Regions from separate parts of the Homo sapiens genome. Here region 1 is linked to region 2. Evidence: fine-mapped expression QTL. A gene starts in region 2. The other region holds a variant in brackets. All regions are shown on one strand. Distances are from middle to middle. Region 1 has its middle 29 kb from the start of FOCAD. Region 2 holds the start of FOCAD (focadhesin).

Region 1 (16,404 bases), 26 kb after region 2:
ACTGAGAATAAGATACATTATAAGTGTTACTGTTAAAACTGTAACTTTAAAAGGTTATATTGAAATACATTAGACTCAAGACAACTGGATACAAATAATTTTCTATTATGTTATTTGAATTATTCCTTTAAGTTTAAATGTCTTGATTTTTCTATTAAGTATACTATGCATTGAAAACTAAATCTTTAGAATGTTATCAAAATATATTCCTGACTCTTCCAAAAGCAGGCTCTGAGCCAAAGTTTGGGTTGCAAGACGTTTATCAGGGATAAATATCTGGCTGGGTGCCGTGGCTCACGCCTGTAATCCTAGCACTTTGGGAGACCAAGGCAGGGAGCCCAGGTGTTCAAGACCAGCCTGGGCAATATAATGAGACCCCCACCTCTAAAAAAAAAAATTTAAAAATAGAAATAAAAAGGTATAAATATCTGTCAAACGTGTTGGGGAGTGGGGAGAGGAAGCAGAATTGAGCAGGAAAAAAGCTGAAACCAGATGCAGGCTGGACAAAGTCCCCAGTCACCCTGGCTGGGAGCTTAGGAGGCTAATATTGCCCTTCGGAGTTGTCCCAGACTAAAATGTCCCAGTCTTTATTCCCTTGCTTCTCTCAGTCACCAAATGTAAGCTGCCTTGGGAAGGGCATGACTTTGGCTAAGATGGCTCTTTACCCCCGAGGCTGACCCTAAAGGAGCTGACAGCTGGAGGCTTTTGTGCAGACTACGTTCTCCACAGCTGGGCAGTAATTAATTCCTTGTAATGGGATCTGGACTGTGCATCTCCATGGCTATCACAATGTAGCTTGTAATTATACACACACACACACACATATATGCACACACACACACATATATTTCCACTTTATGTTTAGCAACACAGCCACATTTAAAAAATAAAAACAATATAAAAAGTTTACTGTGAAATCATGTCCCATCCACTACTTGTAGATATTTTCAGTAGTTCTTTGTGCAACTAAGGCAAATATCATACATATTCATAATTCCCCATTTTTCATAGACAAAAGGTGCATACTCTACCACTGTTTTGTACCTTGCCTTTTTTTCACTTAATCTTGGTTATCTTTTCATGTCAATATATAAAGAATTTCCTCATTCTTTCTTTTACAGCAGCATTTTTTGATGGCCATTTCAGAGGTTTCCAAGCTTTTACTAATAACAGTGGTGCTTTTGCCCACATCATTTTGTACCTGCCTAAGTATATCTGTAGGATAAAGTGACAGAAGTAGAATTTCTGAGTCTAAGTGTAAATGCCTTTGTAATCTGGTATTACTGAATTAACTTCCATAGGGCTTGCAGCAATATGTACTCAATGTATCCTATGTTTAGCAATATGAAAATTAGACACAATGGCTGATTTTCTAAATATTGACCTCTTTTTCCCAGTGTGACAAAATGTAAAACAGTAGGAAGAGAGATAGTGAGAAAAAGAAGGACACTGAGAATATCTCAGTTTAACAGTTCCCTCTTAGACTTTAATTACCTGCCTAGTCTGTGCTCCTTGGCCCATCAAGTGAACAACTGCCTCCCAACCATTTAAATTCCCTCATTTTTAACACCTCCCTTTCCCCACTCCTCACAACCAAGTCAGGTTTTTCTATCACAGCCTGCTGCAAAACCCAGTCTTGAGACAATCTTATAATACATGTTGTCTACTCTTCCTCCTACAGAACTCAGCACATTGGAGACTATCATACATCTTTAAGTGGTGCTGACACTACAATTTCAATGTTTCTCCTGTCTATTGAGCCCTTCATGCTACTTCTCAGTCCTTTTACTAGTCTTTGGTTGTCTCCCAACCCATTCTCCTCTACCACATTTTTCAGATAACTTTGCTTCCGTACTTCTCAGAGAAGACCAAGAACATCAGAGTGAATGCCATCATTTTCAGTTGCCATTGCCAAACATCTCCACAGCCTCCTTAGCTCTCCAGCTGTGCTCTTAATTCTACTTCTCTAATTTCTCTAAAACATCCCTTCTCAAATTATTCCTCTCTGTCTTAAACCTCCCCTCTTCTGCTGACTCCTTTCCCGTGGTCTATGAACATGTTCAACCACTCCATTTTAATCACAGTCTTGTCATGGAATGTCCCCATAATTTTTGCCCAAATTGCTCTCTCTCTCTCTCTTTCTCTTTGACTGTCTGCCTCTCATATCCTTCTCTGCCATAATTCTTCTTTTATTTCTGTATGCTCTTTTTCTAACTTCTCCAGTCACTATGATCTGACTTCTGATCCTTCTCCCTCAAACCCAAATAAAATGACCCTTGCTGGGGCTACCAGCTTTCTCCTACTTTTCACATCCAGTGAACACTTTTCTGAGTCTGTTACTTGGTATCTCTGTGGCATTGATACTGTTGGCCACTTCTCATCTTGGTCTTCCTTCCATCATTCTAACCAAACTGTTGCTGTCTCTTCGGATCTTCTTTTTCTGCTGATCTCTACATATTGGTATTGAAATGTCCTCAGATTTTATACTGACTTCTTTTCTTCTCACCCTATAGAAATCTTCTTTCTAAGGGATCTGAATATTTTTCCATAATTTTAACTACCAACTACATGAAGAGGCAAATCACCTTGTCAAGATACATGCCCTAAAACCAGACTGTATGGGCTCATAGCCTGACTCTACACTTCCTGGCTGAGAGTAACTTTGGGTATTTTTTCTCTGCCTCAATTTCCTCATCTTTAAAATGGGAATAACAGTAGTTTCTACACCATAGGTCATTGTAAGGATATGTGACATCCAAAGGGTTCAGAATATTGCTTGGCGCCTGATAAGCCCTAGGTTAAGTGTTAACCATAACTACTATTATTGCTGTTATTATTGCTGATGGCTCACAAGTTATTGTCTGTAGCCTCTCTTATCTCCTCGTCTCCACATCTGGATATTTAGCTACCACTGAACCTGTCCATAAGGATGTCCCACAGGTACTCCAAGAAAACATCTCAAAAAACCAAACTCATTATCTTGAAAACAAAACTGAATTATCTTCCTATATTTCTTACTTCAGGCCTTGATGGCATATTATTCACCCAGCCACTTGAGCAAGAAACCTGGAAAATGTTGCCAACTTATCCACTCTCTCTCCATTAATTTTTACCTCTGAGCTATCTCTCATATCTCATTGCACCACTCCGATGGTCACTGCCTTAGTCAAGCCCTTCCCATCTCTTGCCTAGACTGATGCAATATCCTAACTGATCTGCCCACCTGCATCTCACTGCTTTCCAATGCTTTCACAATGCCATCAAAATGACTGCTTCCCTGCATAAAATCTTTCAATGACTATTACTACATTAGTTTGCTACAGCTGCCATAACAAAGTATCACAGGTTGGGTGACTTAGACAACAGAAATTTATTTTCTTCCAGCTCTGGATGCAGGGAAATCCAACATCAAAGTGTTAGCAGGCCTGCTTTCTCCCGAGGCCTAGCTCCTTGACATGCAGATGACCACTTTCTCACCATATCCTCCCATGATCTTTCCTCTATGTGCATACATCCTGGGTGTCTCTTTGGCCAAACTTCCTCTTCTTATATCTTAATCACCTCTTTTTCTTTCTGTCTGTCTGTCTTTCTTTCTTTCTTTCTCCTTTCTTTCTCTTTTTTTTTAGATGGAGTCACTCTGTCACTCAGGCTGGAGTGCAGTGGCGCCATCTTGACTCACTGCAACCTCCTCCTCCCATGTTCAGGCGATTCTCATGCCTCAGCCTCCGAATTAGCTGGAACTACAGGCACACACCACCATGCCAGGCTAACTTTCTTTTTAAATTTTTTTGTGTGGGGCGGGGGGAGGGGAGCAGAGTCTCACTCTGTTCCCTAGGCTGGAGGGCAGTGGTGCCATCTTGGCTCACTGAAACCTCCGCCCCCCAGGTTTAAGTGATTATCCTTCCTCAGCCTGCCAAGTAGCTGGGACTACAGGCGCACACCACCACAGCCAGCTAATTTTTTGAATTTTTAGTAGAAATGGGGTTTTGCCATGCTGGCTAGGCTGGTCTAGAACTCCTGAGCTCAGGCAATCACCCACCTCAGCCTCCCAAAGTGCTAGGCGTGAGCCACCACACCCTGTCACTTAATCACCTCTTTAAAGGCCCTATTTCCAAATACAGTCACATTCTGAGGTACTAGGGGTTGGAACTTCAGCATAGGAATTTGGGGGAAAACAATTCAACCCATAAGAATCACCTACCAATTAAGAATGGAGTTAGTTGCAGGGAGGAGCAAAGATGGCCGAATAGGAACAGCTCCGGTCTACAGCTCCCAGCGTGAGCGATGGAGAAGACGGTGATTTCTGCATTTCCATCTGAGATACCGAGTTCATCTCACTAGGGAGTGCCAGACAGTGGGCGCAGGTCAGTGGGTGCATGCACCGTGCGCGAGCCGAAGCAGGGCGAGGCATTGCCTCACCTGGGAAGCGCAAGGGGTCAGGGAGTTCCCTTTCCGAGTCAAAGAAAGGGGTGACAGACGGCACCTAGAAAATCGGGTCACTCCCACCCGAATACTGCGCTTTTCCGACGGGCTTAAAAAACGGCGCACCACGAGATTATATTCCGCACCTGGCTTGGAGAGTCCTACGCCCACGGAGTCTCACTGATTGCTAGCACAGCAGTCTGAGATCAACCTGCAAGGCGGCAGCGAGGCTGCGGGAGGGGCGCCCGCCATTGCCCAGGCTTGATTAGGTAAACAAAGCAGCCGGGAAGCTCGAACTGGGCGGAGCCCACCACAGCTCAAGGAGGCCTGCCTGCCTCTGTAAGCTCCACCTCTGGGGGCAGGGCACAGACAAACAAAAAGACAGCAGTAACCTCTGCAGACTTAAGTGTCCCTGTCTGACAGCTTTGAAGAGAGCAGTGGTTCTCCCACCACGCAGCTGGAGATCTGAGAACGGGCAGACTGCCTCCTCAAGTGGGTCCCTGACCCCTGACCCCTGAGCAGCCTAACTGGGAGGCACCCCCCAGCAGGGGCACACTGACACCTCACATGGCAGGGTATTCCAACAGACCTGCAGCTGAGGGTCCTGTCTGTTAGAAGGAAAACTAACAAACAGAAAGGACATCCACACCAAAAACCCATCTGTACATCACCATCATCAAAGACCAAAAGTAGATAAAACCACAAAGATGGGGAAAAAACAGAACAGAAAAACGGGAAACTCTAAAAAGCAGAGCGCCTCTCCTCCTCCAAAGGAACGCAGTTCCTCACCAGCAACGGAACAAACCTGGATGGAGAATGACTTTGATGAGCTGAGAGAAGAAGGCTTCAGACGATCAAATTACTCTGAGCTACGGGAGGACATTCAAACCAAAGGCAAAGAAGTTGAAAACTTTGAAAAAAATTTAGAAGAATGTATAACTAGAATAACCAATACAGAGAAGTGCTTAAAGGAGCTGATGGAGCTGAAAACCAAGGCTCGAGAACTACGTGAAGAATGCAGAAGCCTCAGGAGCCGATGCCATCAACTGGAAGAAAGGGTATCAGCAATGGAAGATGAAATGAATGAAATGAAGCGAGAAGGGAAGTTTAGAGAAAAAAGAATAAAAAGAAATGAGCAAAGCCTCCAAGAAATATGGGACTATGTGAAAAGACCAAATCTACGTCTGATTGGTGTACCTGAAAGTGATGGGGAGAATGGAACCAAGTTGGAAAACACTCTGCAGGATATTATCCAGGAGAACTTCCCCAATCTAGCAAGGCAGGCCAACGTTCAGATTCAGGAAATACAGAGAACGCCACAAAGATACTCCTCGAGAAGAGCAACTCCAAGACACATAATTGTCAGATTCACCAAAGTTGAAATGAAGGAAAAAATGTTAAGGGCAGCCAGAGAGAAAGGTCAGGTTACCCTCAAAGGGAGGCCCATCAGACTAACAGCGGATCTCTCGGCAGAAACCCTACAAGCCAGAAGAGAGTGGGGGCCAATATTCAACATTCTTAAAGGAAAGAATTTTCAACCCAGAATTTCATATCCAGCCAAACTAAGCTTCATAAGCGAAGGAGAAACAAAATACTTTACAGACAAGCAAATGCTGAGAGATTTTGTCACCACCAGGCCTGCCCTAAAAGAGCTCCTGAAGGAAGCGCTAAACATGGAAAGGAACAACCGGTACCAGCCGCTGCAAAATCATGCCAAAATATAAAGACCATCAAGACTAGGAAGAAACTGCATCAACTAACGAGCAGAATAACCACCTAACATCATAATGACAGGATCAAATTCACACATAACGCTATTAACTTTAAATGTAAATGGACTAAATGCTCCAATTAAAAGACACAGACTGGCAAATTGGATAAACAGTCAAGACCCATCAGTGTGCTGTATTCAGGAAACCCATCTCACGTGCAGAGACACACATAGGCTCAAAATAAAAGGATGGAGGAAGCTCTACCAAGCAAATGGAAAACAAAAAAAGGCAGGGGTTGCAATACTAGTCTCTGATAAAACAGACTTTAAACCAACAAAGATCAAAAGAGACAAAGAAGGCCATTACATAATGGTAAAGGGATCAATTCAACAAGAAGAGCTAACTATCCTAAATATATATACACCCAATACAGGAGCACCAAGATGCATAAAGCAAGTCCTGAGTGACCTACAAAGAGACTTAGACTCCCACACAATAATAATGGGAGACTTTAACACCCCACTGTCAACATTAGACAGATCAACGAGACAGAAAGTCAACAAGGATACCCAGGAATTGAACTCAGCTTTGCACCAAGCAGACCTAATAGACATCTACAGAACTCTCCACCCCAAATCAACAGAATATACATTTTTTTCAGCACCACACCACACCTATTCCAAAATTGACCACATACTTGGAAGTAAAGCTCTCCTCAGCAAATGTAAAAGAACAGAAATTATAACAAACTATCTCTCAGACCACAGTGCAATCAAACTAGAACTCAGGATTAAGAATCTCACTCAAAACCGCTCAACTACATGGAAACTGAACAACCTGCTCCTGAATGACTACTGGGTACATAACAAAATGAAGGCAGAAATAAAGATGTTCTTTGAAAACAACGAGAACAAAGACACAACATACCAGAATCTCTGGGACACATTCAAAGCAGTGTGTAGAGGGAAATTTATAGCACTAAATGCCCACAAGAGAAAGCAGGAAAGATCTAAAATTGACACCCTAACATCACAATTAAAAGAACTAGAAAGGCAAGAGCAAACACATTCAAAATCTAGCAGAAGGCAAGAAATAACTAAAATCAGAGCAGAACTGAAGGAAATAGAGACACAAAAAACCCTTCAAAAAAGTCATGACTCCAGGAGCTGGTTTTTTGAAAGGATCAACAAAATTGATAGACCGCTAGCAAGACTAATAAAGAAAAAAAGAGAGAAGAATTTAATAGACACAATAAAAAATGTCTTATCTCTTATGGCTATCTGTGATTAGTGATCTTTGATGTTACTCTTGCAATTGCATTGGTGCACCACAAACCACACCCTAGAAGACTTGAATTTAATTGAGAAATGTTGTGTGTGTCCTGATTGTTCCACGCTTCCACAGATCAGACATTCCCCCATCTCTCTCCCTTTGTTCAGGCCTCCTTATTCCCTGAGAAATAACAATATTGAAATTAGACCAATAACCCTAAGACTTCTAAACGTTCAAGTGAAAAGAAGAGTCACTCATCCCTCACTAGCAATCAAAAGCTAAAAACGATTAAGCATCTCAAAAGCCATGGTAGGCTGAAAGCTAGGCCTCTTGCATCAGTTAGCCAAATTGTGAATGCAAAGGGAAAGTTATTGAGGAAAATTAAAAAGAGCTACTCCAGTGAACACATGAATGCTAAGAAAGCAAAACAGCCTCGTTCCTGATACGGAGAAAGTTTTGGCGGTCAGGATATAAAATCAAACCAGCCACAGCATTCTCTAAAGCCAAAACCTAATCCAGAGCAAGGCTCTAACTCTCTTCAATTCTATGAAGGCTGAGACACATGAGGAAGGTGCAGAAGAAAATTTAGAAGCTAGCAGATTGGTTCATGAAGTTTAAAGAAGGAAGTCATCTTCAAAACATAAAAGTGCAAAGTGAAGCTGCAAGTGCTGATGTAAAAGTTGCAGCAAATTATCCAGATCTAGCTGAGATCACTGATGAAGGAGGAACACTAAACAACATATTTTCAGTGTAGATGAAACACCTTTCCATTGAAAGAATATGCCATCTAGAAATTTTATAGCTAAAGAGGAGAAGTCAGTGCCTTGCTTCAAAGCTTCAAAAGACAGGTTGACCCTCTTGTTAGGGGCTGATGGCTTTCATTTGAAACCAATGCATACTTACTATTCTGAAAATTTTAGGGCCCTTAAAAATGATGCTAAATCCATTCTGCCACTGTTT[TA/A]TAAGTGAAATCACAAAGCCTGAATGACAGCACTTCTGTTTATAGCATGGTTTACCGAATATTTTAAGCCCCGTGTAAAGACTTACTGCTCAGGAAAAAAAAAAAAAAAAAGATTCCTTTCATCCTCACTGACAATGTACCTGGTTACACAAGAGCTGTGATGGAGATGTACAAGGAGATGAATGTTACTATTATGCCTGCTAACACGACATCTATTCCGCAGCCCACGGATCAAGAAGTAATTTCAGTTTTCAACTCTTTTATTATTACTATCGTTATTGTAAAGCTACAGCTGCCATAGATAGTAATTTGTCTGGTGGATCTCGGCAAAGTAAATTGAAAACCTTCTGGAAGGGGTTAACCATTATATATGCCATTAAGAACATTTGTGACTCATGGGAAGAGGTCAAAATATCAACATGAACAATTTAGAAAAAGTTGATTCCAACCTTCATGGGTGACTTTGAGGGGTTCAAGATTTCAGTAGAGGAAATCACTGCAGATGTGGCAGAAATAGCAAGATAACTATAATTAGAAGTGGAGCCTAGGGTCGGGTGGCTCACACCTGTAATCCCAGCACTTCGGGAGGCCGAGGTGGGCGGATCACGAGGTCAGGAGATCTAGACCATCCTGGCTAACACGGTGAAACCCCGTCTCTACTAAAAATACAAAAAATTATCCGGGCGTGATGGCACACGCCTGTAGTTCCAGCTACTCAGCAGGCTGAGGCAGGAGAATCGCTTGAACCCAGGAGGCGGAGGTTACAGTGAGCCGAGATCTTGCCACTGCACTCCAGCCTGGGCGACAGAGTGAGATTATGTCTCAAAAAAAAAAAAAAAAAAAAGAAAGTGGAGCCTAAAGATGACTGAACTGCTGTAATCTCATGATAGAACTGGAATAGATGAGGAGTTGCTTCTTATGGATGAGCAAAGAAAGCAGGGTTTGAGAGGATTGGCCCCAATTTCTAAAGAAGTTCTGCTGTGGGTAAAATGCTATCAAACAGCATCACATGCTACAGAGAAATCTTTTGCAAAAGAAAGAGTTAATTGATGCAGCAAACTTCATTGTTGTCTTGTTTTCAGATATTTCTGCAGCCACCCCAACCTTCAGCAACCACCACCCGGATCAGTCAGCAGCCATCAACGTTGAGGCAAGACCCTCCTCCAGCAAAAAGATTACAACTCAATGAAGACTCAGATGATTATTAGCATTTTTATTAGTAATATATTAATAAATATTGTGTTTTATTAATAGCAATAAAGTGTTTTTAATTAAGGTAAGTACTTTTTTTTAGACATAATACTGTTACAAACTCAATAGACTCCAGTATAATGTAAATATAACTTTTACATGCACTGGGAAAAAAAATTCTTGTAACTTGTTTTATTCTGATATTTATTGCAGTGATCTGGAACTGAACCTGTAATATGTCCAAGGTATGCTTCTAATCAGCCAAAATGATAAACCATCAGATTGAAAAAACTTCCAGAGTTAATATATTAAAAGGTAATAATGAATGAGAAATAATACTGTACCTTAGTAATCTTAACTCTTTTCTCTGTATACTTTTGTTTCTCAGCTAATGGTTCTATACTAGGGCACTGCAAAGTTAAAGGATTTTCTGAATACCAGAATTTTACTACTAATAGAGCCATTCTAGAATCTGGCCCTATCCATATTTTAGCCCATTGGCACATGATTTATCCATCTCTCTGTAATAATTTATCAATGCTATTACTAACAAATAGATTAGTAAAGGTTCTTGAAAGAACATAAGAAATATATAGTTCTTCTTTCACCCCACCAATAGTAATAATAACTGAATATAAAATGGTGAATTGTAATATAATTATATTTTATATATAATTATAAAAATAATTATATTTTATATATAATTATAAAAATAATTATATTTTATATATAATTATAAAAATAATTATATATATAATATTATATATTTTATATAAATATATATTATATATATAAAATATTATAATTATAACATAATTATAATATAATAATGGTGAATATAAAATATAACATGGCCATGTGCAATGATTCATGCCTGTAATCCCAAAAGTTTGGAAAGTCAAGGTGGGAGGATAGCTTGAAGCCGGGATTACACGATGAGCCTGGGCAACACAGTGAGATCTTCACATCTACAAAAAATAATAATTAAAAAAAATTATCTGGGTATAGTCCTATCTACTCCAGGCTGAGATGGGAGGATCACTTGAGCCCAGGAGTTCAAGGTTGCAGTGAGCTGGAATCATGCTACTGCACTCCAGCTTGGGAAACAGAGCAAGATCCTATCTTAAAAAAAAAATGGAGAGAGGTATGCCAAATGGATCATAACTAGTATATGTAAAATGGTGGTGAACAGGGCCTAGATGTATCTTTTATATATTCTTGGACCCCATAGCTGAAAACAGATGCAATATATTAAGTCAGTAAACTGCCGGCTGTAGCACCAGACACTTACATACAAGGTTTGACTAATCTTGGTCATCTGTTCAGGGAAGTACAGAACTGTGGTGTAACCATGTCTTCCCGTTTTTATCTCTTCAATGGGGGAGAGGTGGGATAGATGTGTCAGGCCAGATGCTGCTGGAACAAGAAGACAAGTGTCAGAGGGAGAGGGAGGCAGAGCTGAGACCAAGCGTGTCAGAGGGGTCGCCTGCTTTCCTGCCATTTGAAAACTCATTTCCTAAAGGACAGTTACACTGTGCAATGTAATAATATTTTATCACTAAAAAGACAAGGCAGCTCTACACTTACCAGTATGGAACAGGCTCCAAGTCATATTAAGTTGGGGAAGGGTAATGGGTGGAGAACAAAATGTAGTACAATGTATGTAATATGCTATCATATGTGTATATAATTAAATATATATTTATGTATGTATATGCTTACATACACGTAGAACATGTTTGGAAGAATATTGAAAATTTGGGAGCTGGGTATGGTGGCTCATGCCTGTAGTCCCAGTTACTCAGGAAGCTGAGGTAGGAGGATTGTTTAAGCCCAGGAGTTTGAGACCACCCTGGACAACATAGTGAAAGAAACCTCATCTCCATTATAAATAAAATAAATAAAATAAAATAAAATAAAATAAAACTTGCAAACCTTGGGGGAGGCAAACAACGTAGGGCTTCCATGTAAGGCCACACATGATGGAATTACAACCTTCCAGAGGCATCAATTACATAGGCTCTTGCTACTCAAAGGTGTGGTCTCCAGACCAGCAGCATCAGCATTACCTGAGAGTTTTTTGGAAATGCAGAATCTCAGCTTCTATCCCAGACTTACTGAATCATAATCTACCTTTAAAGAGGACTCTCAATTATTTTTTAATTGCATCAAATGTTGAGAAATACTGTTATAAATGCAAAGTGTATCGAGCCTTCTAGAGTTGTGCACTGCATAACCTTCATAACCAAGAGTAAAGGAAAGATCTGTGAGTAAAGGATGGGAAGAAGTCTCTTCACCATAGAGGCTTTTTTTTGTTTATTTTTTTGAGATGGAGTCTCGCTCTACTGCCCAGGCTGGAGTACAGTGGCACAATCCAGGCTCACTGCAAACTCCACCTCCCAGGTTCAAGTGATTCTCTTGCCTCAGCCTCCTGGGTAGCTGGGATTACAGGCATGTGCCAAAACACCTGGCTAATTTATAGAGCCTTTTTGCACTTTGTACATGTTGAGTCATGTGGTACAAAAAGAATTGTAAATATTGTAAGATAAACTAAAGCAAACAGCACTTTACAGCCTAAAGGGGATGACTTTAATAATTGAGAGTAGGCCAGGCACGGTGGCTCCCACCTGTAATTCCAATATTTTGGGTGGCCTAGACGTGAGGATAGTTTGAGGCCAGGAGTTCAAGACCAGCCTGGGCAACATGGCAAAGCTCCATCTCTACAAAAAATACAAAAATCAGCTGGGTGTGGTGGCACGTGTCTATACTCTCAGCTACTCAGGTTGAGGTGGGGAGCTGCGGGATGGTCAATGGGGGCTTAGGCAGGCGGATCACTTGAGCCTGGGAGATTGAGGCTGCAGTGAGCTACAGTTGTGCCACTGCACTCCAACCTGGGTGACAGAGTGACAGCCTGTCTCAAATAAATAAATAAATAAATAAATAAATAAATAAATAAATAAATAAATATTTGAGAGTAACTAATCATTATGGGATAAGACATTGATGAGGAAAGCCAGTCAATGACAAAGAGCATTTCAACTGAGCACAGTGGTGGTAGTTTTTGGAAGCCATAGAACTGTTTCATGCTTATATCTCAAAGAGATATTGGTTACATCGGGACATTAGTTTAACAACTTTTGAAGATAACTAAGTCTGGTATTGGAAAATCCACGTTATGTGTTTGAGTTCCCAAATGGGAGACTAATGCCTTAAGTGTGACTTCTGTTCTACCTCCCAGTCCTCCCACTTTCTGCCCTCCAGGACTTTTGTACTGTGCTGCCATTTATGAGGTAGCACCAAGCTCATATTTTGCTTCAGACAAAATCATTATTTAGGTTGCAGCCTTAGAGTTATTTTATCATTTCTATAATAAGCAAATAACTGCTGTATAAATGAGAAAATGGGGTAATGTTTTAAAATTTAATTATATTTACACTTTAGAATTATATACATTCACATGAAACAGAAAGTGTAAAAGGGGTACAAAGTAAGAAAGCTCTTCTCTATGGCTATAATCCAGTTATACTGTTTCCTTTTCTAGAGGCACCTAATATGAGTTTTTATGTATCTTTCTGAAGATAATTTATACATAAAACACAATTTACATTATTTTACATCCTGTGTTTAAACAAAAGATAGTATACTATACTTACCGCACCTTGCTTTTTCTGAATAACATTAGATCAGGGAGATCATCCTGTATCACATAAAGATGATCCCCATAGCTACTGTATCCCAATGTAGGGATACATTATTATGTATACACTCTATGGGTGAAATCTTTTGGTATTATAAACAATGCTATAATGAGTAATCTATTTCATACATGAGTGAATAAAGTCTCGGATAAATTCCCAGGAGGAAAGCTGTTGAGTTGCATTGTTAATTCTGTGAGATAATGGCAAATTGCCAACTTACACTCAACTAGGAATGTATGAGAACACACTGTCTAATCAAACCTTTATATCTTTGCTAATACAATAACTTTAAAATGATATTCCAGCCATTGGAATTTGCATTTCTGTTTTTGTGAATAAGACTGAGCATCATTTTATATATCTAAAGGTCCTTTCTTTCTTTCTCTTTTTCTTTCTTTCTTTCTTTCTTTCTTTCTTTCTTTCTTTCTTTCTTTCTTTCTTTCTTTCTTTCCTTCTGTCTCTCTCTCTCTCTCTTTCTTTCTTTTTTTGACAGAGTTTCACTCTTGTTGCCCAGTCTGGAGTGCAATGGCATAACCTTGGCTGACTGCAACTTATGCCTCCCAGGTTCAAGCAATTCTCCTGTCTCAGCCTCCCGAGTAGCTGGGATTACAGGCGTCTGCCACCACACCTGGCTAATTTTTTGTATTTTTAGTAGAGATGGGGTTTCACCATGTTGGCCAGGTTGGTCTCGAACTCCTAATATCAGGTGATCCACCCGCCTCGGCCTCCCAAAGTGCTGGGATTACAAGTGTGAGCCACCATGCCCAGCTTGGTCATTTTCTTACTGATTTTCAAATGCTCTCTCTGTATTAGAAAGACTAGCACCTGCCTATGTTATAACTAGCGAATATTTTTCCAAGTTTGTCATTTGTCTTTTGACTTTTTTGTTTATCTTGCAGAACTTTATTTTTATTTTTTATGCAATCAAATTTTTAAATCATTTCTGTTATGGCTTCTGAATGTTATGACATATTTAGAAATAGCTTTCCCATCCCCCAATTTTTTTAAAAGGAAGTCTTTAGAGCTTTCTTCTAGCTCTCTTATGTTTTCATTTATTTACATGTAAATATTTGAGCCAACTTGAATTTGTTTTGAGGTAAGTTAGGAGATACAGATCCAAATTTATTTTTCTTATATTTTCTAGATGTCTATTGGTAGTCCTAATAGTATTTTTATATAAATCATTTTTTTGCCACTGATTCAAAAGGCTGATTTTATAATTTACTAAATTCTGTTTCTGAATATTCTCATTTATTCCACTGATTCTTTTTAAGATATAAAAAAGCTAGTTGACCTTCACACTCTAGGCTTTTCCTACATTTTCCTAGATACTATTGCTTGTTATTTTTAAATATAAGCTTTAGAATTTGATTGGCTGAAATAAAAACATCTTGTCTTTTTATTGGATCAATCTGTGTGTGATAATGTCTTCCTGTTCAAGAATATGCTATGTCTTTCCATTTGTTCAAAGTTCTTTTGAGACTTTAGTTGCAGCTTAATGTTTTTGTTTTTTTTTCAAATAGATTTTCTACATTTTCATTGCTTTTGTAAATGGAATCTTTTTGTCCATTATATCTTCTAAACTAACAGTTAATACACGTTAATGAATTGACTATTCATTTCCGTATGCTAATTTTATACTTAGCCAACTTACTGAATTGTCTTATCATCTGTAGTAATTTTTCAGTTATCTCAAGTTTTTCAGAAATGCAATAGTAATATTTACAAATAATTATAATTTTGCCCTCTTCCTTTCCACTTTTTATACTTCTCATTTCTGTCTCCTTTCTTGTGATGGCTACTGTCTCCAAAATAGTGTCAAATAGAGGTGACAGATATTTTCACCTAGCTCCTGATTTTAATGGGACTTCTCCAGATGTTTCCCATTAACATGATGCTGGCTTTGGGGTTGAAATAGATGTATTTTATATACTATGACTATTCATTGTGCATCAAATTAAATTTAAATGACTAATGAAATCACTCAGGATCTCTTAGAGAGAGAGGGTACCTTGTTTGGTCCAAATTGGTAATATATGGCTGTTTATGACTTATCAAATACTTTTTACATGTATCAATTATCTCACTGGATCCCCACCGTAATCCTGAGTTAGATACCCATTCCAGCATTTTTTTCTAATTATTATGCCTTGTTCTGGCTTCTATCAGATCATTAGAAATGAAGTACAAATAATGAGAAAACATTCTTCCTTTGAAAGCACAACAAAGTGTTCAAGAATAGCAGAGATTTAAAAATAAACTATTTTATAGGACACAGTTTCTAGAGTATTAACAATATGTTCAGTGTCTCCTGTGGCCAAGAGATAGTTCAACCCCCCATTTTTCCTTGTAGCTAAATCAGTGAGTTCCTTATTACTAGAGGCTGAGCCTAAACACGCAAAGTGAGAGCTGGCCTGGAGGAAGAGATTTGAGAATCATCCATGGGCAGGTTATAATTGAAGCCATAGGATTAGATGAGATAATCCAGAATAATGTACTCTAGAAGGAGAAGATAAATAAATCAAAGATGGAAGCCTGGATAAAACCAATAACAAGGGTGAGTAAAAGAAAAAAGGTTCTAAAAAAGGGAATAAAAATGAACAGCAGGAGTTAAAGAGAGGAAAAAACACAAGAAAATTCATTACTAAAACAAAAGGAGAAGGGAATTTCAAGAAGTTGTCAACAGCATCAAAGTCTTCAGAGACTAAAATAATTCCAAGAGTTGAAAAGTATTCATTGTAATTAGCAAAAAGGTGATCACAGGCAAATTTGACAGCAACAATGTCAGTGGATGCCGTGGCTATTGTCTGCCCGGAATGCCTTTCTCTTCTACATCTGGCAACAAATCCTGCTTCTCTGTCCACAGGAGCAGGCACATGATTCAGGTTGTGCTAATTATAGCATCACATCTTCCTGGCTGTAGAGATAGGCAGCATTCAATAGTAGGCATATGGCTGGGCACAGTGGCTCATGCCTGTAATCCCAGCCTTTAAGAGGCTGAAGTGGATGAATAACTTGAGGTCAGGAGTTCGAGATCAGCCTGACCAACATGGTAAAACCCCTTCTCTACTAAAAATACAAAAAATTTAGCTGGGTGTGATGGCGTGCACCTGTGGTCCCGGCTACTTGGGAGGCCAAGGCAGGAGAA
Region 2 (15,097 bases):
GGAGGTATCCTTGACTCCATCACTCCTTCATCCCCTACATCCATCTGGCCACTAACTCAATCACCTTAATATATCTGGAATTCATCCTCTTCTCTCCAGCAGCACTGCATTTTCGGAGTTCTGTCACATGTAATGCAAATGTCTGCCTTACCCCACTACAATTCATTCCTCACATTGCCTCATGAAACTGATGTTAACTTTCTTCCACTTAAAATCTATTACTCATGGATCAACATAGCCTCCAGATTAAAGCTCAAAATGGCTAACACGGTGTGGAAGAGAACTTTCATTATTTACCCTTGTTTACTTTTTAAAGTTGATCTATTCTCTATCTTAACACATTAAGGGTCTATGTCCCGTTTCTAACCTATCTATTTGTCCTCACTGCTTTCTTGTGCCCAGAATGCCTTATCCTCTAACCTCACCAACTAATTCCTACTCACTTTCAAACTTCAATTCAGATGAAAATTCCTCCATAAAGCCTTCTCTGAATCTCCTCAAACCTTGCACACAGTTTTCTCTATCCCCCACTATACTATGTGAACGACTAATTATAATGTTTATCCCATTGTATTTTGGTGTTGTTTATGAAGTCCATGCAATACTGTAAGTTCCTTAAAGATAAGTTAAGGACCTAGCACCAAAGTAGTTGCTGTCTTTGCTGAATGAAGGAATAAATAAAAAATAATGAATACAATACCTTTAATAACTATGAGTCTTTAAAAATCACATTTACTTAAGTGTTTCAACAATTAAAAACATTTAATAAAAAGTTTCCTCCATTCTTCTCCACGTGTATGTCCTAATAGCATATACTAAAATCAGGTTTGGTTACATAAACCAACATGTGCAATGATTGGGAAATAGAGTAGAACTTAAGAATAAATTATGAAAGCAGGTAGGCCAAATAGAAAGGTTTGTCAAGAGAGAAGGGAAAGATACACCCTGGCAACCAAAAAAACTTCATAAAACTACAGTTACAACACCCACAATTACTGTATTACATTTGTTCAACATATGTATCAGCCAAATTAGCAAGAACTCATCTGACCAAAAGGAGATTAGAAGATACCTTCTCCAGTTTAGGAGCTTCAGTGGATGCTTCATTGGTCCCCGGGCAAGTAAAAAGATAAATCTTTAAATAATAGTAATAAACTGACTATCTATGCAAGTTGGATTCTCAATTTCCTTTGGCCTAAAGAAATGTTTTCTTTCATGAACAATGGAAAGCTATACAGTATTTAAAGTCAAGGGTTTTGGAACATCTTCAAAATATATAAAACTAAAGTAACTCAGACTAATTAAATGAAAGCCAATATAAACTTTTAAAATCATAAACACAATTTTATTACTTTCAATATGACCTGAGTAGGGGGAAAAAAAAAAAAAACTATGAGGCCAGAAGTACTTAGAGGGTTACAAAAACTACATTTCAATCCATTGTTTGAAAATAGATGGGCTCTTCCACATCACTTAAAACTTTGTTGTTTCAAATCATTTACATGGAGGAAATTCACAAATATCCCTTGTCCTATCAGCTTAGCAAATCTTGTTTCTTATCATGTGGAAATAGTAACAAAACCTCCATCAATCTATTACTAATTGTGAATCACAGACTTATACTCATATAAGTATACCATACTTTATTATACCATGCATCTCTAGATCTATAGATTTCTCATCTCCTAAAGAAATACTTACTACCCACTTGATCAAAATTTAAATTATCACCCTAATTTTCTTTTTGTGCTTAAACCAAGTTCTTTGTTATACATCAAGAAATACTGATTAAGATCAAGATTTGTTATAGACTAATAATCCTTAAACTATTATTTCCTTACACTTCCTCCAAATATAGTTATTATTTCTCATTGTGGTTTTTTCCCGCTAGAAGGTTAATGTCCTCAGCTCTTGAATTTTCCCCATTAACCTTGCAATCTTGATCAGGTCCATTTCTAGAACTGAAAGATGTAACACCAACGCGGAGGGATCACTTGAGGTCAGGATTTCGAGACCAGCCTGGCCAACATGGTGAAACTCCGTCTCTACTAAAAATACAAAAATTAGCTGGGTGTGGTGGCATGCGCCTGTAATCCCAGCTACTTAGGAGGCTGAGGCAGAAGAATCACTTGAACCTGGGAGGCGGAGGTTGCAGTGAGCCGAGATCGCAGCACTGCACTCCAGCCTGGGCGACAGAGTGACCCTGTCTCCAAACAAACAAAAAAATAGCAAATGCAAAATTTTAAGAAGTTATATTTTCTTAAATTTTCCAAACTCCTAATAGTGATATTAACAATTTAATTCAACTAATCACTTGTGGACAATATCCCAAAAGTATCATGAAGCTAAGAATATTATGTCTCAGACTGTTTCATAAATCATTTTAAACGGGGAAAAAGGCCAAACGATTTACCGGTAAGCACCATCAATCAATCAACAAATGAAAAACTCTGGTTATACGTCCATGAAAATTTTGATTTCAAACTATTTATTACAGGGCGCGAGGCTGTGTTCCGCCTCCTCCAGCTCCTCCTGATAACCTTTTGGTTATCAGGCGTCAACTGGAGACAACAATCAGTTAAAATCCAGTAAATTTGGGGTTAATGAAACAAATGTTAAAATAGATATAATATTGATAAACATTAGCCAAGAGATGGTAACTACCTAACATTGATTAAGTAAGCAAATAATCAAGGCAGAGGTTTTAGCTTCCACTAATCTATAAAAGCAAGTGAAAATGCTTTGAAAATTGCATTTTTATGCAATTGTTTCAATATCATACCTTTGTATGTAACATTAAAAAGCTCATGATTACTTCATTTCAAAATTCAGATGAGTCACAGTGCTTTCTACGCAGGAATTGGATGTGAATCAAAATTGTAAACATGCACTTGCTTGGTAGTCAAAAAGTGAATGTGGACAGATACAATGTTCGTTGACACAGTAAAACATAATCATAAAATGCATCCTGTGTTTTTAAAATAGTTACTTCCTGTTAACACAGTTCAGGAAACATGCCATCTACCCTCCTCTCCTGGAAAATCTCAAAATTATACTAATCCCATTCCTCTTCTTACAGATAGGCCACTGAAACCTGGAGTCATTACTGATACAGTTATCAGGATTACACCCTCAGAGCCACGATGGTTTCAGGGATACTAGAACCTGAAAATAACAAAAAAAAAAAAAATTTCCAACTCAAATCTAGACAATAAAACTAACATATAAACTGGAATAAAACGCAGGAAATGCCGATTTTAATACCTGGTATGAGGCTGACCATTAAGGCATCCATCAAAAAAGTTTGGAATGTATGAATGAATGACTGCATGAAATTGGCAGGATTTCATTCATTTCAAAAGCTCCAAATTCAGGAACCACACTGAGATATCAGGACGCCACAGCTGAAACTAAAACTCATGAAGGGTAAATGCAACATAACTGCACGTCTCCACGCGTTAGCTGCTGCGAAAATTTCAAAACATACATCTAACATACTCTTTCTTCAAGTAATTGCCGCAAGTGCGGACGGAGCCAGAGAACTAGGAGACTGAAAACAGGCCCTGCTCACCCATAAGCCTTTGCATTATAAGTGGACATGATCTGAGTGAGTCACCGGGAATGAGAAGGAGACAGTCACCCCAGGCCAGGCAGGACGCGGCCAGAATCTCCTGCTCTGCCCCCAACTAGGGAACCGGTCGAAGGAGAGTGGGACGACTGCAACCTGCTGCAGCTAAGTATGCAAGGATCGCGCCGACCGGCTTCCGAGTCGAGATCCCACTAAGTCCCACCGCAGTCACCACAGCCAGCCCTGCCCAGGTATCTCGGAGCTCCGTAACCTCAGAAGGCCTAGTCCTCCAGAAGCTGAGAGCCCCAGCAGGACCGGACGAGGGCAAAAAGCCCCCTCCCGGCTGCCCCTCGCCGCGACGCGGCCCTGCCGCCACATGCTCCACTGCCCCGTCTCCCAGCTCAGCCCCAGCCCCGCAGGGCCTCAGCCGCCCTCCATGCAAGCCGACCGGGCCGCAGGCGGCGCGACCCGGCGGCTCCCGAGCAGGGGTGCAGCGGTGGCAGCCCGCCGCCCCGCACGGCTTACCTCCCTTCTGCCACAAGCTCAGCCCAGCGCCGGCTGCCTGACGTGGCCCGCCCCGCCGCCTCGAACGCCCGGGGGCGGGGACTGCAGGAGAGAGCCAATGGGCTGCATATCGCGAGGCCCTGTTCCGCCTCCTCCGGCTGGGGCCCGCCCTCCCCGGCTCGCGCGCACGCGCGTCTAAGGCCCGGGCCGCGCACTGCGGTTGAAAGGCGGCGTGGGCGGCGGACCCGCGCTCTGCAGCCGAGCTGGTGCGGGGAGGGCTGCGCGCGGGGGCTGGCTGTGGAGCAGCACCGCAGTGAGGAGTTAGCCCAAGGAAAATCAGATTAAAGGAAACTGCCTAGAGATGCCACTGCAGCGTGCCCGGGTAGTCCTGTTGGCAGCCTGCCCCTATGCAGCTTTTGGCAATACAGAACAGCTTCTTGGTATTTGGAGATTTTGTTTCTCGGGGGAAATAAATAATACTGATAACATTAAGGATTCAGAAAATTTAAAGCAGACAGCCGACTTGCCGCGAAGACGCTTCGTTCTTCGCCTAATAGCTACTTGGTGTCTTTACTTCATTTGGCCAACACATAACACTGCAGCTCTCCACGCCACTGTGGTATATCCACTTGTTAGATAGTCCTGAGGTAGTTCTAGCCCAAGTGTTTCTGCTGATCTAATCTGGGGGGAATTGGCGCGAGTAATTATTCTGTTACGATTTTGCGCAATACTTACTGAATGATAAACATGTATTTTCTCGTGGGGCGGGGCAGGGGCTCCCACGTGAGAAGGCTGTAACAGACAGACAGCAGCCACGATGAAACACGCTGAAAAGAGCCAGCAGAAAAAAACGAGGAGAGACTGGTATGACGGAGTGGAATTCCGGTTGTGGATGACAGAATGGAAATTTTACGCAAGATGAAAGAGTTAAGACAAATTACTCTAAAAATATCTGACTTAGTTGTTTCTAAACCCTGGGGCACCCTTAGGAAAAAATAAAAATAAAAAAACAAGTGCCTGGGCCTCATCACTTGGTTGAAAAAGGTCTGCTGCCAGATCTTGACATTGATATTTTTCTAAGTTTCCAAAGTCATTTTAATGTGTAGACAAGAAGTTCTGTTTCTCATTTGTAGGAAGAATTTGGTTCCCCATCACCTCAGAAAAGTAATTATGTATCACAGACCGTTAACAGTTTTCCCAATAACCAACTATGCATTCACCCTCTAAGAATTTATCTAAATTAATCTTGGGGCCAGGTGGGGGGGCTCACACCTGTAATCCCAGCACTTTGGGAGGCCGAGGAGGGCGGAGTTCAAGACCAGCCTAGGCAACGTGGTGAAACCCCATCTCTACTAAAAAAAACATACAAAAATTAGCCCGGCGTGGGGTTGCGCGCCTGCAGTCACGGCTACTCTACTCAGGAGGCTGAGGCAGGAGAATCGCTTGAACCCGGGAGGCGGAGGTTGCAGTGAGCCGAGGTGGCGCCACTGCACTCCAGCCTCTGATGGAGTGAGACTGTCACAATCAATCATTCAATCAATCAATATTGAACCTACTTAAAGTTATTCAACCTCTGTTATCCTTTGCTTCAAAGGAGTTTTATAAGGCTTATAATTCCCTTTTTATGGACTTTGATGATACTCTCTTTCAGTCTTCCAAATGCACCAGTATTTCTTTTAGGACTATTTTAATATTTTTTCTTCTATTCCTATATTTCTTGAGGCTCATTAGTCAAAATTATAATTAAACACATAACTCTGTAAACAGCGCTGTTCTAAGTATATAAATTTATTTAATCCACAGAACAACTTTATGAGGCAGTTACAGTTATTACCCACATTTTATAAATAAGGAACCTGAAGTACAGCAAGTGAAGCATCTTGACCAAGGTCATGCACCTACCTAATGGCCAGGCCAAAACTTGAATCCAAGCACCCTGGTGCTCAATGAGTAAACGTACTGCCTCTGTTGTAGAAAGCCTGGTTTTAGGAACACACAGGGAAATGCCCATTTAAAGAATGATATTGAGTCTACTTTTGACACCGTCTTATTATGTTCAGGCTGCTATAACAAAGTATCTTAGACTGGGTAATTTATAAACAATAAAAATTTATTGTTCACAGTTCTGCAAGCCGGGAAGTCCAAGCAAGGTGCCAGCAGATTTGGAATATGGTGAGGTTCCATTCCTCATGGATGGTGCCTTCTGTGTATCATCACAGGATAGAAGGGGAAATAGATTACCTGAAGCGTCTTTTATAAGGGCACGACAGGAGTCCTCATAACCTAATCACCTCCCAATGGCCCCACCTCTTAATCCTGTTGCATTGGAGTTTAGGCTTCAACACATTAACTTTGGGGGACACAAACATGTAGGCCACAGCAGACACCTATCCTAGATTCAGATTTTGGGCAGGATTGAGAAACTTGACCATTAAACTTGGAGCCTAGAACCGATTTGACTGCTTTTACTGCAGATCTAGGGTTAAGCTGGAAGTCCATGGGCTCACCCCCTCCTTCTGGGGTATACTCCTTCCATACAGGAACTGCAATTCAGCAGGGATCATTTCACCTTTTAATTTATTTAATCTAATGCTATACCAGGCACTGTGGTAGGCACAGGAGATACCAAGATGAAAGACGTATTCTAGAGCCTTATGGAGCCAGCTCATTCTGGAGACCAAGTCAGCAGCCACCAGATTTATTTTGACAAGACTAGAGAGATAGGCTTTTAGAACTAGAAAGGATCTCAGAAGTTGCCAGTTCATGACAAAGTTTTCTCTGACAAATTCTGAAGTTAAAAAATATGGACAATGTATTAAGTTTTCATAAAAATAAATTTATTCAATTTAAAGGACTGTCCTTTTCCTGAGATTATGCTTTGTTCTTTTGTTTTGTTTTAATGTTAAAAGTACCCTCTCAGGCCGGGCATGATGGCTCACACCTATAATCCCAGCACTTTGGGAGGCCAAGTGGGAGGATAACTTGAGGCCAGGAGTTCAAGACCATCCAGGGCAACAGTGAGGGCCCCCGCCCCATCTCTATTAAAAAAAGAAAATAGAAGTTTTCTCATATGAAATGATAATAGGTTATACTTGTTGGGAATTTTATTTTAGTAAGCTTAAAGTCTTATGTTGGAACTCAAAATTTTTTTACGCTTCACTGATTTAATCTAATCAAGCCAATTACACAGAAGGGAACTAAAATTCTAAAAGGATACAGGTTCATCTTCAATTCTTCAATGTCATATGACTAATTGCTTTTTGTGGGGGGCTGTGGTTGGGCAGGGCTGTTTTTTGTTTTTGGCTTTGTTTTGGTTTGAGGCAGGATCTTACTTTGTCACACAAGCTGGGGTACAGTGACACGATCATAGCTCACTGCAGCCTCACCTCCTGAGCTCAAGCAATCCTCCCACCTCAGCTTTCCAAGTAGCTGGGTCTGCAGGCACACACCACAGTGTTCGGCTAACATACACATATATTCTACTACTACATTCTAATAAATAAATGTATATATAGAAATGAAGTCTCACTATGCTGTCCAGGCTGGTCTTGAACTCCTGGCCTCAAGTTATCCTCCCGCCTCGGCCTCCCAAAATGCTGGGATTATAGGTGTAAGCCACCATGGCTAGCTGCTAATATGTTTTAGAAGGACTAAAACCCTGGTTCCCTGACTCCTAGTCCTATCCTCTTTCTACTGCATACCTATTGAATAGCTTGCTTTATGCACTGGGATATAAATTTTTAAAATTTAAATTTTTTTTTGAGACAGAGTCTTGCTCTGTTGCCAGGCTGGAGTGCAATGACGCAATCTCAGCTTGCAACCTCCACCTCCTGGGTTCAAGCAATTCTCCTGCCTCAGCCTCCCAAGTAGCTGGGACTACAGGCGTGCGCCACCATGCCCAGCTAATTTTTGTATTTTTGGTAGAGACGGGGTTACACCATGTGGGCCAGGATGGTCTCTATCTCTTGACCTCGTGGTGGGCTCACCTCAGCCTCCCAAAGTGCTGGGATTACAGGCATGAGCCATCGCACCCGGACAATAACAACAAATTGTAAAAGAAATTAAGGTGAAGGCCGGACAAAAAACATTAGAACAGGTTCTAATAGTCCACCTATATTCTTAGCCAGGAGGAAAAAGATTCTGCCTGCCTAATTAATCACGTTAACTAAATAGCTTACTTTCCTTCTGAGCTGAAAGCAAAGAATGGAGCCTGAAGGAATGTAGCTACAATTTATAGTTAAATTTTGATTGAGCTATAACTTAGGAAAGATCAGTTTAACTTAGTTGGGCGAACCTACATCTGATGCAGATGTTTGTAGCTCTCTACAGCTGGTTCACTGACTTTCAGCCTGAGGAATATTTCTGAGAAACAGCAGAGAGAGGGTGGTCCTTCATAGGGGTTACAAGAGAATCACCTTTATTCATGTAACCTGTGGAGGGTGCGCTAGACTTAATTCCAGAAGGCCCAGCTCAGACGCAAATTTCACTTGAAGGATTAAAACACCTTTCAAATCTGTATTTTCTAGACATTGTACATGCAAAACTCTGCCTTTTAAATATTTAAGACAAACTACCGTCTTTAAGAGGTAGGCAGGCAGATAGTATTTCTGTTCAACTCCTTGTATTATTTCCACTGAAGTAGTTAAGCAGTTCTCTATTGTATAAGACCCTTTAGATAAGCACACATTTTGAAGTCAGTGTAGAAGGGCCTACTGACTTTAACAACAACAAAAAAAAAGAGAGTAAGAAAAATGTGCCCACTCCCAAGTCATTAACAGAGCTGAAAAGAATATGCTAACAAAAAAAAGACACTGTAGTCTGAATCCTGTACTGTAAGGAAGGTCATGTCACCCACAGCATCAGGAGAGAGACACAAAGCCTTGAACTCAGGCCCAAGCATGCTGGGCTGGCTCAACACGCCCACCCATTCATCATCAGGCACGAAGACTGGGAGGAGAAATTCAGTACTAAATCACAGAGCTCCAGTGTCAGCACATCACAGAAAGCAATCTATTAGATTTAATTAGATATACGAGTCTCCAATGGCTCCCCATTTCTTTCTAAGTAAAAGCGAAAGTTCTTACAAAAGCCAACAGGGCCATACATGATCTCCCTCCCCTGCACCACACACCTCCATCCCCAACACACACACACACACACACACACACACACACACACACACACACACACACATACACAGACTGTCTGTTGCCCCTTTGACCTTGTCTTCTACACTCCTGCCCAGCTCACTCACCCGGCCTCCTGGCTGCTGCAAGATCTTGGCATTTCTCCCCAGATATCTTTGTGACTCATTCCATCAGATCATTCAAGTCTTTGCTGAGATGTTACCTTCTGGATAAGGCCTACTCTATCAGTCAGGGTCCCAGCAAGAAACAGATGGTACAATCAAACTAGGAAACATTGAAGAGTTTAATAAAAGACTATAAACAGAGGTATGGGCAGGGATTAAAAAGATCACAAGGGAGACGCAGTAACATTGGGGCCCCCAAATCACGCCTAAGCTGAAAGCAGAAAGGAGAGAGTGTAGTTACAAAACACAAAGAAGCTGTGTTTGGGGCATTTGGTCACGTAACACAGCCAGTCCACAGTGATGCTACAGGGAGGGGGTTCAGGGAATTACTATCTTCACTTCCCTCATTCTCCTCTCTCTTGATCTCCTGAAGCAAGGGAAGCCTGTGCTGCAGTTATAGGTCGGCCTCCTGCAGCACTGTGAAGGGGCAAAAAGAGAATATCTGACACACTTACCTTGGTCACCTATAATAGAGATTGCTGTGTAACACACCACCCCAGAACTTAGTGGCTTACAATCACAAACAATTATTCATTCTCAGGATCCTGTGGTTTCCTAGGCAATTCATATTTAGGCTGGTTTTGCTGGTCCCTCCTGGATCTCTTTACATGTCTGCAGTCAGCTTAAAGCTTGGCTGGTCTAGGATGGCCTCATTCACATGCTTGGTAGTTTGCTCAAGGTCAGCTTGGGCAATAAGAATGATGTAGCCATGTATCTCTAATAACTACAACCACTTTTCTTAATAACAAGACAATATCAGATCCTTACTAATATTGACATACATTATTTCAATGTAATCCCCATGCTAAAAATAATCCAAATTTTTATGTGACTCAGTAATGTTCCCAGCACCAAGGGATAGAATATGTTTGATCTAAGCCAGCAATTTCTTTCTGAAATGGACCAGAGAGTAAATTTGCCTCAAGTCTCTTTTTGTTCTTCCTGATATGTTTTTAATTATTGGAGGTGCTGAGAGGATTCAATAAAGCAAAGGATATATAAAAACTTCAATATATCTTCATATACACACACACATACATACATTTTCTTTATCCAATCATCTTTTGACAAACAGGTTGTTTCCATATCTTGACTACTGTGAATAATGCTGCAGTGAACAAAAGTGCAGATATCTCTTTGGGATGCCAGGTTCATTTCCTTTGGAGGTATACTCAAAAGTGGGATTGCAGTATCAGATATAGTTCTATTTTTTAGTATTTTGAGAAACCTCCACACGGTTTTCTATCATGGCTCTGCCAATTTACATTTCCACCAACAGCATGTAAGTGTTCCCTTTTCTCCACATCCTTAACACTTGTTACCTTTTCTAACAGGTTTGAGGTTATATCTTATTGTAGTTTTAAATTTGTATGATGATTACTGATGTTGAGCATTTTTTCCTATATCTATTGGCCATTTGTATGTCTTCTTTGGAGAAATGTCTATCAGGTCCTTAGTCCATTTTTTAATAAGGTTATTTGGTTTTTTTGCTATTAAGCTGAATTCTTTGTATTTTCTATATTAACCCTTTATCACATAAATAGTTGGCAAATATTTCTCTCATTCTGTAAGTTGTCTCTTAATTCTGTTGTTTCCTTTGCTGTGCAAAAGCTTTTTGGTTTGATGCAATCCCACCTGTCTATTTTTGCTTTCGTTGCCTGTGCTTTTGGGGTCATATTCAAAAAATCATTGCTCAGAACAAGGTCAAGAAGCTTTCTTCCTATCTTTGCTTCTAGTAATTTTACAGTTTTAGATCTTATGTTTGAATATTTAATCTGTTTTAGTTGACTTTATCACATGGGGTGAGGTAAGGGTCCAATTTCATTCTCCTACATGTGAATATCCAGTTTTCCCAACACCATCTAATAAAGAGTCGATCCTTGTGTGTTATTGTTTAAGATCAGTTGACCATAGATACATAGATTTATTCGTGGGCTCTCTGCTCTGTTCCATTGGCCTATCTGTATATTTTTATGCCAGTACCATACTGTTTTGATTAGTGTAGCATTGTCATGTACTTTGAAATCAAGAAGTATGATACCTCCAGCTTTGTTCTTCTTGTTCAAGATTGCTTTGGCTATTCAGGGCCTTTTGTGGTTTGTTATAAATTTTATGTTGTTTTTTTCTATTTCTTAAATAGTATTATCAAAATTTTTTAGGGATTGTATTGAATCTGTAGATCATGTTGTGTGGTATGAACATTGTAATGGTATTCTTCCAATCCATGAACAGAGGATGTCTTTCCATTTATCTGTGTCTTCTTTAATAAATGGATTTTGATGTTTGAAAATTTCCTTTCCACTTGCATTGAAATCCAAAAATGCTATTGGAACTTTAGTTTGATTTTGGAAAATATATCTCCTGCAAATGTTTGTGGGAATGGAGCTCTTGCTTCTTTTTAAAACTTTGACAGCACAGGAACTATATTAAGCAGGTTGACATTACTTGTGATTGAAACAGCATTAGTTTTTGTTAAAATGACTTTACCATAATGTGAGTTTTGGACATATGCTCTGTTTGCCTTGTAATTTTATATTGAGAAACATGATGAAGTCTGCCACACAAGCTAATTTTCAAAGCCACTCATGTTCAATAACAGTAATTGAGGGAGGTTCTTCTCATTCCAGAAGTCTCAGGCCTGAGTTTTAAAAATTGCAACAAAACTTTACCGCTGCTAAGCCATAAAACTGCTGTGTGATAGGGCAAATCGGGATATTCAGCTTCTATTTTTGACAAAAGTTTGCAGAATTGATCATTAAGTCCACCAGAGTAAATGAAGTTCACCATTGGAACTTCTGGGTCAGAAACACACAATAGATTCAAACACTTTCTGCAAATTACCTGCTGATGAACAGCATAGTAAGTAACAATGGGCTTTAAGTCTCTCACATTTTCACAAGCTTTATTAATTTGTCCAACTAAGCTTTTTCTTCTCCATACACATTTTTATCACCATAAGTTATAAGGCATCTTAACAGATTCTACTTCAGGTTTTATTAATGTTTTCCCAACATCTTTGAAAATATATTTGCCCATAGTTGTTCTACGCAGACGATTCATAGAGGCTAATTCTTCAGTGACTTTAAACTCAGCGTTGACTCCTTGAATAAGCAACTGAGCACTATTGGTAATACCTGTCAACTCATCAAGAGCCAAGGAAAACCACTCAAAATCATCTACCTTGTTTTGTACATGACTATTGATGTTGCTCCCAGTGTCTTCAACTCTTCAAACAACAGATCTCACTGAAAGGTTAATCGTCTGAAACAAGTTTATTTTCTTGGGAAAAAATTTTTTCAGCTGCTGTGATCAAACATGATTTAATTAACTCATCATCAGTAAACAGCTTTCTTTGCTTGGCCAACAAAGAAGCCACTCAGAAAATTACTTTGGTTTCAACTCTTTTGTTATTTTTGTGAAGAAATTCTGCTGTGATGACGTTTTCCATTGTAAATTTTCACATTTTCTGACCATTGTCTCCCTGTGAGTTGGGAATATTGTGATGAATCTGGGAATATTGATGTATATTATCTTTTAGTACAGGTATAGTATCACTGCACAATAAACACATACTTTGTCATCCAATTTGATAACAAAATAATCCACAATCCACTGTGCCTTAAAAGCATGACACAAAAAGTTCACTTTTCTCTTCTTTTCTTGTTTTGACATGATGGCTATGCTCTGGTATATATTTTTATGTAAAAACTATTCTTAGCTTGAAAACATTCTAAAATTAGGTGATCATCCAGTTTTGACCCACAGACTATAGTTTGCCTACCCCTAACCTAAGCCAACCATGGCTCTCTTCTTCCCCTTTGCCAGATACTTTCCCAGACTTCCTTACAGCAAGTCATGGCCATGTGGTTCAGGGCTGGCCTATGAGACTTAGAGAACTAGATTTATAGAAGAAAAACTTTTTTAACCAGAAAAAGAGGGTCTTACAAGGAAGAAGTCAATTGCCCTTGACTGTGGCTCTTGCATTTTTGCAGAATATGTACCACAGAAGTAATTTGTTCTCTTGCTGCTTCCATAGGTATAGTTCTGCCCCAACTCTACCCCATCTCACCCTGGATTCTGAGACAACCTCTTATCCCAGGAACTTATTAAGTAGGTATTGGGGGGAAATTTTGAAGGAATCTATTCAATCAGGCTTCTTAAATTTCAGTCCTTATAACCATGGGGCAGAAGAAAAGCACAGCTATCATTTATTCAACAAATATTACTGAGTAAATAGTATCAGCTCAACGCCATGCTAAACACTGATTATACAGAGCAAAGTCAAATAAAATCATCATCGTCCTCCAGACATTCAAAGAACACATGGCCTACTTTCTCCAACTTAGCAGGCAAAGCTGACCAGTATCTTTTGATGCAACTTCATGAGAGTTGTTCCAAAGTGGCACCACAGCCTGGACTTCAAAGATGTGCTCTCAGCAAGGGTTGCTAGGGGTCTTAAAAAATTCTCTTCTGCTTACATTCTCTGTCAAGAATTAGGCCTTTGGAACATCTTTATAATATCCAGGCCTAATTGTCCAGTGGTGCGCTGACAGATGTTTAATTAGCAGCTCTTGGTGGAAAGAGATAGGGGAGAAGCTGATGTGTAGTGTTTGCCAACTTCCATGGTATAAATACAGTACTCCCACATGGTCAATTTCCATATGGAGTTGGGAAGAGGTGTACACTTACACATAATTGTATAATATTTCCACCATAGAGACAATAGCATAAATAACCTCAATAGCATAAATAATAATAAAATGTAGAAAAATAATTCAGAAGTAATAAGCTTAGAACATCTAATATATTTATTTCTAATACTAATATAAGATATTTAATTGTAAGTTGATATAATTTGCTTTTTAATAAGGACTGTGTTTAACAAGTAGTTTGCAAAGTTCCTGAAATTTAACAATTGGCTCTTGTGACAAACTGACTGCAACATACCACTACAGATAGACCCAGTGCCTCGCTTCTTATCCAAACTGGTAGCATAAGGTCTTGATTTAGCCTTTTTACCTTAAAGAACAATTGACAAATTTTCAACTAATTAAGAGTAAAGAGGAATGTAGAAAAACTTTTACAACTTGATAATTAAAAAACAATCTAATTAAAGAATTTTATTAATTAGGAGTCGGGCATGGTGGCTCACGCCTGTAATCCAAGCACTTGGAGAGGCCCAGGTGGGCAGATCGCTTGAGCTCAGGGGTTCAAGACCAGCCTCGGCAACATGGTGAGACACCACGTGTGGCACGCACGTGTAGTCCCAGCTACCTGGGAGGCTGAGGTGGGAGGACTGCTTGAGCCTGGGAGGCAGAGGTTGCAATGAGCCGAGATCACGCCATCACGCCACTGCACTCCAGCCTAGGTGACAGAGTGAGACCCTGTCTCAAAAAAATAATAATAATTAATTAAGTATAATTAAATAAAAATGTATAGATATTTCTTCAAAGTAGATATACAAGTAGCTAGTAAATAAATGAAAAGATGCTCAATATCATAACCCCCAGGAGAATGCAAATCAAAGCCACAGTTAGATACCACTACCAGGATAGTTATAATAAAAAAGACAATAAATGATGCCGATGCAGAGAAATTAGAACCCTTACACATTGTCGATGGAAATGTAAAAATGGTGCACTGTTATGGAAAAACAGTTCAACAGTTCCTCAAAGTGTTAAGCATAGAGTTCCGTATGACCTAGCAATTCCAAT

Evidence for each region.
Region 1: its variant is fine-mapped to the expression of FOCAD in whole blood (TOPMed, PIP 0.98).

The regions. Positions count from the first base shown.
Region 1 is chr9:20,646,624-20,663,027 of GRCh38, reverse strand. It overlaps a transcript of FOCAD not described here. Among named protein-coding and RNA genes, the nearest start is that of FOCAD, 29 kb to the left of the region's middle. RefSeq lists an enhancer at 4,283-4,342. The variant TA/A (reference allele first, on the strand shown) is at 8,367.
Region 2 is chr9:20,673,290-20,688,386 of GRCh38, reverse strand. FOCAD (focadhesin) reads right to left here and starts at 4,128. Exons shown (of 44, transcript NM_001375567.1): 1 at 4,094-4,128. FOCAD-AS1 (FOCAD antisense RNA 1) reads left to right here and starts at 3,637. Exons shown (of 2, transcript NR_121601.1): 1 at 3,637-3,819; 2 at 4,846-5,085. RefSeq lists an enhancer at 3,686-4,426 and a silencer at 3,826-4,525.